3 linked regions of the Homo sapiens genome follow. The protein of the gene in region 2 purifies or fractionates together with the protein of the main gene of each other region. This does not show direct contact. Each region holds a gene or a part of one and is shown on either strand. Other genes may lie near its edges.

Region 1 (2,793 bases), on a different chromosome or scaffold from region 2:
GAGAATTGCTTCAACCCGGGAGGCAGAGGTTGCAGCGAGCTGAGATGGCGCCACTGCTCTCCAGCCTGGCAACAAGAGCGAGACTCTGTCTAAAAAAAAAAAATAATAATATAATAATAATGATAATAATAATAAAGATTCTAGGCGCAGTGGCTCATGCCTGTAATTCCAGCACTTTAGGGTTATAAAATAGAACTAAAGATGCTGAAAACTAATATAGCTTGTTCCATAAATATTGTATTAAAAAGCTAATATCTTCATTAAGTAGATTAACTGCCAGGTAAGTGAGAACTTGTGAATGTGTCTTTTGGGAGTGGGGCCAGACAGGTTGAGCATCCCTTATCTGAAATGCTTGGGACCAGAAGTGTTTTCAGTTTCAGATTTTGGAATATTTGCATATATATAATGAGATATTTTGCAGATGCGACCCAAGTCGAAACACGGAATTCATTTGTTTTACATACACCTTATACACATAGTTGGTAGGTAACTTTATACGATATTTTAAATGTGTGCATGAGGCATACTTTTGTCTGCGTTTTTGACTGCAACCCTTCACATGAGGTCAGGTGTGGAATTTTCTGCTTGTGGCATCATGGTGCTCCAACATTTTGGATTTTGGATTTTGAATTTCTGGATTAGGGATGCTCAACCTGTAATAGAATGTATAGGATTCTCATAAGCCAATCATTTTGAGTTGTTCGCTGAGGCATGACATATCTTCGCTGTATTAAACTATCTAGATAGTGTAATGAACAATGGTGTGAAACTGTCAGAACTAGGGCATTAAGGTAGATGGATAAATGGCTAGTGGAACAATTTAGCTATGTTAAAACAGACAGTAAGATAAACACTGATTTTAAAATATCTCCATAGTTGCAATAGCTGCTGGCCGAAAACTTGCCCATCGACTTTTTGAATATAAGGAAGATTCCAAATTAGATTATAACAACATCCCAACTGTGGTCTTCAGCCACCCCCCTATTGGGACAGTGGGACTCACGGAAGGTAGGTATTTAAAAACTGAAGGTCATTTGTGGTTTCCTTCCTCTTTCCCCTGCCCCCAACTTTAAATTAGGTCTCTGTCAGCTGATGAAACCTATCTCAGCCCCAGATTACATTGCTTTTTGGTTACTCTCTTGTCACAGTTCCAGTTTTCTCCCCTGCTACTACTTTGAGTGTACAGTATCTTTCCTTCACACCACCCTATCTCTTTGATCTTTTTTTTTTAGCTTTTTTATTTGAACTAATTTTAAATTTAAAGAAAAGCTCTAAAAATAATACAAAGGACTCCTCTCTAACCTTAATATTTTTGCTTTTTTATTTTTTCACTCTACACACACACATGTCTATCTTTCCTAAGAACTGGCCCTTACATAAACCGAGTATCATTTTCTTTTTTTTTTTCTTTTTGAGACAAGCTCTCCCACTGTCACCCAGGCTGGAGTGCAGTGGCACGATCTCTGCTCACTGCAACCTCCGCCTCTGGGTTCAAGCAATTCTTCTGCCTCAGCCTCCCGAATAGCTGGGACTACCAGGCCTGCACCACCACCATGCCTGGCTAATTTTTTGTAGAGATGGGGTTTCACTGTGTTGCCCAGGCTGGTCTCAATCTCCTGGGCTCAAGCGATCCACCTGCCTCTGCCTCTCAAAGTGCAGGGATTACAGGCATGAGCCACTGTGCCTGGCCTTTCTTTTCATCTAGAGGCAGAATTCCTCAGCCCTTCTTTTGTCTTATATGACACTGACATTTATTTTGTAGAATACTTCTCATTTTGGCGTGGTTTGATATTTCCTCGTGGTTTGATTGAGGTTATGTATTTCTGGTCATCTCCCTCTTTGATAGTTCAGTGTAATTGTTTAGTTTTCTGATAGATGCTTTTTTTAATGTGCATTGTAGATGAAGCCATTCATAAATATGGAATAGAAAATGTGAAGACCTATTCAACGAGCTTTACCCCGATGTATCACGCAGTTACCAAAAGGAAAACAAAATGTGTGATGAAAATGGTCTGTGCTAACAAGGAAGAAAAGGTAAGGAAAAATCCAGCAAACTAAATAGTGCCTTGCAAAATGGACAGGGATGGCAGTATTTTGCAGGGGTGGAAAGGAGGGAGACCAAGCAGTTGAGCCTTCTGATTCAACTGGACAGGCCCACTTTGATCTGTCTTACCTGCATTTTGGGGTTCTTCATAATATTTCATCTAGAAGGAGGTTCCACTCCTTTTAAAAAATAAAGACGATGCCAGGCGTGGTGGCTCACACCTGTAATCCCAGCACGCTGGGAGGCCGAGGCAGGCATATCACCTGAGGTCAGGAGTTTGAGACTAGCCTGACCAACGTGGTGAAACCCTGTCTCTACTAAAAACACAAAAATTAGCCAGGCATGATGGTGCGTGCTTGTAATCCCAGCTACTCGGGAGGCTGAGGCAGGAGAATCACTTGAACCTGGGAGGCGGAGGTTGCAGTGAGCCAAGATCATGCTACTGCCCTCCAGCCTGGGAGACAAAGCGAGACTCCATCTCAAAGCAAAAAAAAAAAAAAAAAAAAAAAAAACAGGAGAGGCCAGGGCCAGGCGCTGTGGCTCACGCCTATAATCCTAACACTTTGGGAGGCCAAGGTAGGCGGATTGCCTGAGCTCAGGAGTTTGAGAGTAGCTTGGGCAGCATGGTGAAACCCCATCTCTACTAAAAATACAAAAATTGGCCGGGCATGGTGGTGCCATGAACATTCCTCAGTAGCCTATGATTTCTGGATATTGAATCATGAAGGCTCCTACTTAGTTATTTCTTC
Region 2 (3,653 bases):
ACAGCACAAAAGATGGTTCATAAATAGACTCATAAAAGGAAGGCCTGGAAATGAGGCATCTTCTAATACAGGCATGTTAGCTCTAAGGGTTTTTTTTCATTGTGACATTGCTTTCTGAGCCAAAATAATGACAAATTGTTGGTGGCTATGGTTGGCTGTGGGGCCAGGGCCACCTTGGGATGTCCATTAAGGTCTGATATTGTCCAGCAGACCTGGCCTAGGCCCAGCCCCAGGTTGCAAGTTCCTGCAGCAGACTATTTGGTCAGTCACTGAGCCTTGTAATCACAACCTCTTGTGGCAAGAAAGGCTTTCAGTAACCAGATACCCTGAATTATGTGATGGCTCCACAAAGGGGTGTGTGACACATTGGGCTGAAGTCAGAGCACAGATTAGGGAGCTGAAGTCCCTCTGGCCTCTGTGGAATTCCACTGAAGTACACCCTGCAGCAATAACTGTATATTGTCTTACCCCCGATGCGTCCCTAAGCTGTGCCCTTCTCTCCAAAATAGCCTTGTAGCCTTTGCTGGATTAGGGTAGCCAACAGTGCATTCTGAGCACAAAGACTAGCACTGTGATTTAAAAGCTGGATAATTAACACTGGGAAAACTTGGACGCTGGGGGTGCAAAACCCAAATTATACCTCAAATACAGCGTGCCAGTAAAGCCCAGCTTGTCAGCTTTCTACTGGAGGCCTCACGAGGCTGAGTGTAACTGGGGAGTGTAACTTGGTTGGTGGGCAGGAGAATTTAAGGTCTCTCCATGGATTCCCACTCAAGTCAGCTCCCTGAGGGTTTTCTGGCATCAAAGCCCTTGGCTACTAGTTGGGTTCAGGCCCAGGCACAATTAGTGTCTCCGGCCGCAGTCCCAGCTTTGAGAGCTCCCAGACCGCCTCCGCCTTTTGAAGGATGGCAAATGTTCTTTAGCAAAGACTCCGACCAAAAGGCCTTTTATTCTTACGCCCTATTTCCATTCCCCAGAGCTGCAATCAAGGCCCGAACCCCACCAGCAGCACGCTGGGTGGTGCAGGTCCTTAAACCTTCACAGCTTCCAGGGGCTCGGACCTTTACCCTCGGCCACAAGCAGCCCCAGTGGCCCAGCTTTGCGACAAAGATTTCGCACGCGCACATCCCGCTTCCGGCCTGGGCCTCAGACGGGGAAACCTTGGGCTAAGGGCGGAGCCTAGGCTAGGGGCGGAGCCTTAGTGGGGCGGGGAAGGGGCGGGGCCTAAGCTACGGGCGGGGCGAGTCGGGGCGGGGCGGGGCGGGGCCGATCGGGGCGGGGCCGCGGGTCTCTTACTGTGGTCGTCGCTTAGCGCTCTGTCGATGAAGGCTGCCGCCGGGTAGAAGAAGACACTGAGGTCGAAGGTGGGCAGGTCGTCGGCCTCCACGCCGTGGTACTGGATGTCCATGTCGCGGTAGTAGTCGGGCCCAGTGTCCACGTTCCAGCGGCCGTGGGCCGCGTTCAGCACGTGCGTGAACCCCGCCTTCTGCAGCCTATAGCGGTCCAGCGCCGTCGCCCTGGGCGCAGGGGAGAGAAATCTGTGGGCGCGCGGCGCCCTGCCCCGGGTCCGGGAAACTCAGGGGCCACCCACGCTTTCCGCTGTGGATTCCAGTTCCAGAATGAGGACTAGTTATTGCAAATGAAGTCCCAAAGCTCTGCTCTTACCCGGTCCCCTAGGCCACCTGCACTGTTTTGTGATTCTGGCTCGGCTGTCTCAAGAAAGGACAGGGTGGAGGCTGGGGTAGGCAAGCTGAGCTATTCGTTCGTCCATTAGTTCTTTCATCATTCAGTATACACAGCGGAACCTGGTGCTGGCCTCTACGGTGGTCGCAGATCTGGACCTGCCAAATCGCCTGAAAGCCCTCCAGAATAACCTGTTCATCAGGGCTGCCTTCTCCCAACCTCTGCTCTGAACCTGCTGGATGTTTTTAGGGTTTGGAGATGGACGCTCAACTGAATGGTTTAAAGCAAGGCCTTCCATAAGAGGATTGGATTGGGATTGGGCAAAGTTCACAAATTCACGTTGGCACGATGTGAACGGGAAAGTGTTGCTTTGGGGAGCTGTTGCCCAGCTGGGCAGAGCATTGTTCTGAGAAGGAGGGCTTTTTGAGCCATCTGTTGTTTGAATTGATTGCAGGGAAGTTCTTGAAGCCAGCAGTGAAGTTATTTAATGGGCTACAGCTTTATCTTTCTAGGCAAGAATTTCCAGGAACAGTAAAGTCCTCTTGAAGTAGGTGGCTCTGAAATATGACTCGATGAGAAGGCAGCATGGTGGGGCCGGAGTGGAGATGGGCTGCCAGAGGAAACACGGGTTCTTCCTGCCTGTGGGGTGGGGCAGGGAGAGGCCTGTGTCACTACAAGTGTCAACATTTGGTGATGGAGGGGAAGAAGGAGGCAAGCGCGGGCCAAGCCAAGGAAACAGCACCACCTGAGGTATGGAGGCTGGAGACAACGAAGGCCTTTCAGGAAGCATTGTCTATTTCCTGTAATCAATTATCCATCCCCAAATAATTATTTGCAATCTATTATGTGCCAGGCACTGTGCTGGGTGCTGATGGTAAAGAAATGAACAGGGGCCGAGCACAATGGCTCACGCCTATAATCCCAGCACTTTCGGAAGCCGAGGCAGGCAAATCACATGAGGTCAGGAGTTCGAGACCAGCCTGGTCAACGTGGCGAAACCCTGTCTCTACTAATAATACAAAAAGAAAAAACAAAAAACAGCCAGGTGTGATGGCGCATGCCTGCAGTCCCAGCTACTTGGGAGGCTGAGGCACAAGAATCGCTTGAACCCAGGAAGTGGAGGTTGTCGTGAGCTGAGACCACGCCACTGCACTCCAGCCTGGGTGACAGAGTGAAACTGTCTCAAAAAACAAAAGAACAGGTTAGTGAAGTTCCCTCAGGAAGGTCAGATACTAATGGGGGTAGGAAATAAACAAAGATAATTTTAGATAGCAGTGAGAGCTATCCGAAGGACCTAAAACTTCATGACATGATACAAAATGACTGTGGTCCTGCTTCAGGCAAGGCGGTCAGGAAAGGCCACTGTGGGGAGGTGGTGTTTAAGCCAAGACTGAGGGATGAGAAGGCTGAGGAAGAGTTGGAGAGAAAGCGTTTCATCCAGGCAGAGGGAACAACTGCTGAGAACAGAAAGGAAGCCAGTGTGGCTGAAGTGGCAAGGGGAATAGGAGTTTGGAAAGGTAGAGGGGCTGGAGCATGGTGGGCCCTGCCCGCCATAGGAAGGAGTATTATTGCAAGTGTGGTGGAAGTCTGCTAGAGGATTTTAAGAAAGAAGTAAGCATTGTTTACTTTTTTAAAGATCAATCTGGCCAGACAAGGTGGCTCACACCTGTAATCCTAGCACTTTGGGGAGGCCAAAGCGGGAGGGTGGCCTGAGACCAGGAGTTCAAGACCAGCCTGGGCAACATCATGAAACCCCATCTCTACAAGATATAAGGGAAAAAAATTAGCCGGGCATGCTGGCATGTGCCTGTAGTCCCAGCTACTGGGGAGGCTGAAGTGGGAGGATCACCTGAGCTCAGGGAGGTTGAGGCTGCAGTGAGCTGTGATTGCACCACTGCACTCAGTCTGAGCAGCAGAGACTCTGTCTTTAAAAAAAAAAGAAAAGAAAAAAGAAAGAAAGAAAAAGAAAA
Region 3 (3,653 bases), on a different chromosome or scaffold from region 2:
CTGCTGCCCACTCTGCCGAGAGCCTTTCCATGGGGACTCAGGAAGAAAACAGTAGAGAACAAGGTTCGATTTCTCCACTGAAGGGAGACCAGGCAGAACACAGCTTTGGTGGGTATGCAGGGGTCTGAATCAGGCGGCCTTTGATGGCACCCTCATGCCGCTGTCCATGAGCCCGGGAGCCAATGGTGAGTGAAACAGGACCTCCCAGGGGCCCGGCTCTCAAGGAACAAGCTGTCACAGCAGCCAGCATACTTCAGTGTTCATCCTCAGTCTCTCAACACAAAGTCATCAGGGCCACCAACTCTCATACTGTCAACGAAAATCTACGCCATTTAAAAAGGCCATTGTTCAATTCTGGGTGGCACTCATAATATTCTCAGCACTTTGCTTCCTTAAATGTCAAAATATACTTTTTCAAGTAGGTTGTTAGTGGAAGACTCAATTCTGAACTCCTCACTCAGTCCACACTGGCAAGGGAAGCATTCACTGCTATCACTTTCCGCTCTTACACATCTTTCCTGGACGTGAAAAGGAAAGGGGTTTCCTTCAGTTTACAGAATTGTTCTTGGAAGGCTTCAGGAAAAAAGTCTGGCAAGGCGCAATGGCTCACGCCTGTAATCCCAGCACTTTGGAAGGCCGAGGCGGGCAGATTGCTTGAGCTTGGAGACCAGGCTGGGCAACATGGCAAAACCTTGTCTCTACAGAAAATAGAAAAATGAGCCTGTGGTCCCAGTTACTTGGGAGGCTGAGGTGGGAGGATTGCTTGAGCTGAGGAGCTGGAGACTGCAGTGAGCCAAGATCACACCTGCTCTCCAGCTTAGGTGACATAGCCAGGCCTTGTCTCAAAAAAAAAAAAAAGGGGGCCAGGCACAGTGGCTCACGCCTGTAATCCCAGCACTTTGGGAGGCTGAGGCGGGTGAATCACGAGGTCAGGAGTTCAAGACCAGCCTGGCCAATATGGTAAAACCCCGTCTCTACTAAAAATACAAAAAAATTAGCCAGGCGTGGTGGCATCCGCCTGTCGTCCCAGCTACTCCAGAGGCTGAGGTAGAAGAATCCCTTGAACCCGGGAGGCGGAGGTTGCAGTAAGCTGAGATTGCACCATTGCACTCCCAGTGTTGCTGCCCAGGCTGGAGTGCAGTGGCGTGATCTCGGCTTGCTGCAACCTCTGCCTCCCGGGTTCAAACGATTCTCTTGCCTCAGCCTCCCAAGTAGCTGGGATTACAGACACTCAGCTAATTTTGTGTGTTTTTAGTAGAGACAGGGTTTCACTATGTTGGCCAGGCTGGTCTCAAATTCCTGACCGCAGGTGATCCACCCACCTTGGCCTCCCAAAGTGCCGATAAAATGCCAATAAAATAACGCCGATGAAAGTTCCCAACCATGCCAATAAAAATGTATTTGTTGGCCAGGCGCGGTGGCTCACACCTGTAATCCCAGCACTTTGGGACGCTGAGGCAAGCAGATCACGAGGTCAGGAGATAGAGACCATCCTGGCTAGCACGGTGAAACCCCATCTCTACTAAAAATACAAAAAAAATTAGCCGGGCATGGTGACCGGCACCTGTAGTCCCAGCTACTCGGGAGGCTGAGGCAGGAGATTGGTGTGAACCCAGGAGGCGGAGCTTGCAGTGAGCCAAGATCGCACCACTGCACTCCAGCCTGGGCGACTGAGCAAGACTCCATCTCAAAAAAAAAAAAAAAAAAAAAAAAAAATATATATATATATATATATATGTGGGCTGGGTGTGGTGGCTCACGCCTGTCATCTCAGCACTTTGGGAGGCTGAAGCAGGCGGATCACCTGAGGTCAGGAGTTCAAGACCAACCATGGTGACAAAGCCAGCCCTGTCTCAAAAAAAAAAAAAAAAAAAAAAGAAAGAAAGAAAAAGAAAAAAGGGCAGCTCCAGGCCCAATCATTCTAACCTCTACAGTGTGATCACCCCATGGGTATGCTTTGGCAGTACGGCTCACGCATTTCTAAGATTACACATCTTCATGACGGATGATTTCCACTTCAATAGGAACCTTTACACGACCCAAACCTGATTAGGGCGTCCCCCAAGATATAGGTTCCGTCACGCTTGCCCACTCCACCACATTATGTAACAGGAAAAAGATGGTCAATCTACAGGAATGCATCCTGCAGTCCTCATGAAAAGGGGAAGTGAGGCCAGCCGCGGTAGCTCATGGCCCGTCATCCCAGCACTTTGGGAGGCCAAAGTGGGTGGATCACCTGCGGTCAGGAGTTTGAGACCAGCCTGGCCAACATGGTGAAACCCTGTCTCTACTAAAAATACAAAAAATTAGCCGGGTGTCTGTAATCCCAGCTACTTGGGAAGCTGAGGCAAGAGAATCGCTTGAACCCAGGAGGCAGAGGTTGCAGCGAGCCGAGATCACACCATTGCACTCCAGCCTGGGCAACAAGAGCGAAACTCTGTCTCAAAAAGAGAAAAAAAAAGTTGGGGGGAGGGAAGTGAAACAACACGGAAAGGGAGAACAACTTTGGTTCATTTAAATTATTTAGAAAATGACCTTAATCAGAGGGTGGCCCAGCCCCTGCAGCACCCACAACTCAGGTTACTTGAATTGGAGCCTAGCTTCCCCTGGTTATCTGCCCTTCTTTGTTTAACTGGCAGGCCTGGCTGGAATATGCTACAGGTCTATATTCAATGGCTTCTGTTGAAGTCCCTGTGGAAGGAGAGGCCTCTGGGTCCTCTGCCCAAGCCTACCAAGTTGGCATGGAGGGGGCAGTAGAGACCCAGGAAGGGTGCTAAGGCACTGGAGACCAAGCTCCCAGGCCAGAGGGCAAGCCTAGAAAAGAGCCCTGGAATGCCAGCAACTGCAGACCAGGCAGGCGGAGGTTCATGGGCACCTGTGCTCAGTATGAACCATTGAAGTCAAACCACCCTACACTGAGATGCAACCACTGCAGCAAAACTTCACAGTGCTGAGGCCACACCAGAAGCCTCAGCTCCATCAGGCCAGAGGGCATGGTTCAGGGGCAAGTTCAGACAGCCAGAGCTTAACCGCAGTGGCCTTGGCCTTGGGGAGGGAGTTTCCTGGGTGACCTGGACATTTGGTCAAGGGCTCATGAAGACTGATCCATCAAGCTAGCTAAGCATTTATAGGCAAACCCAACCACGCCAATAAAAATGTATTTGTGGGCCGGGCATGGTGGCTCACGCCTGTAGTCCCGGCTACTCGGGAGGCTGAGACAGGAGAAGGGCATGAACCCGGGAGGCGGGGCTTGCAGTGAGCCGAGATCGCGCCACTGCACTCCAGACTGGGCGAAAGAGCGAGACTCCATCTTAAAAAAAGAAAAAGAAAAAGAAAAAGAAAAAAATATATATATACACTCACACACACATATATATACACACACACACACATATACATACGTGTGTATACATATACATATATACGTGTGTATGTGTGAAAAACCCCGGTAAACTGAGTCTACTCCAGTGACGGTGGTCAGATTCCTATGAAGGACATTAACTGTTATTCAAGTTTTTACGTCATGGATCCTATTTCCTCACACATTAGATGGAGGTTAGTGTATTTCGTTATTATTTACATAATTGTTTGCTCTAAGCTGCTTTCTTTTATTTCTCTATAACTTCTTTCCTCTGCCTTATGTGGAATTAACA

What was found.
Region 1: the proteins of DUSP29 (region 2) and GSR purify together in Homo sapiens (affinity purification with mass spectrometry, with the first as the bait; one large-scale study listed by BioGRID). This does not show direct contact.
Region 3: the proteins of DUSP29 (region 2) and RCC2 purify together in Homo sapiens (affinity purification with mass spectrometry, with the first as the bait; one large-scale study listed by BioGRID). This does not show direct contact.

What each region holds. Positions count from the first base shown.
Region 1 is NC_000008.11:30,680,145-30,682,937, reverse strand, and holds part of GSR (glutathione reductase, mitochondrial isoform 1 precursor), read left to right. Parts: intron 1-876; coding exon 877-1,008; intron 1,009-1,900; coding exon 1,901-2,034; intron 2,035-2,793. UniProt on the Homo sapiens protein: Catalyzes the reduction of glutathione disulfide (GSSG) to reduced glutathione (GSH). Constitutes the major mechanism to maintain a high GSH:GSSG ratio in the cytosol.
Region 2 is NC_000010.11:75,042,501-75,046,153, forward strand, and holds part of DUSP29 (dual specificity phosphatase 29), read right to left. Parts: intron 2,323-3,653; coding exon of another isoform or gene 2,184-2,322; exon of another isoform or gene 1,549-2,183; intron 1,518-1,548; coding exon 1,297-1,517; intron 1-1,296. UniProt on the Homo sapiens protein: Dual specificity phosphatase able to dephosphorylate phosphotyrosine, phosphoserine and phosphothreonine residues within the same substrate, with a preference for phosphotyrosine as a substrate. Involved in the modulation of intracellular signaling cascades.
Region 3 is NC_000001.11:17,429,645-17,433,297, forward strand, and holds part of RCC2 (protein RCC2), read right to left. Parts: intron 1-3,653. UniProt on the Homo sapiens protein: Multifunctional protein that may affect its functions by regulating the activity of small GTPases, such as RAC1 and RALA. Required for normal progress through the cell cycle, both during interphase and during mitosis.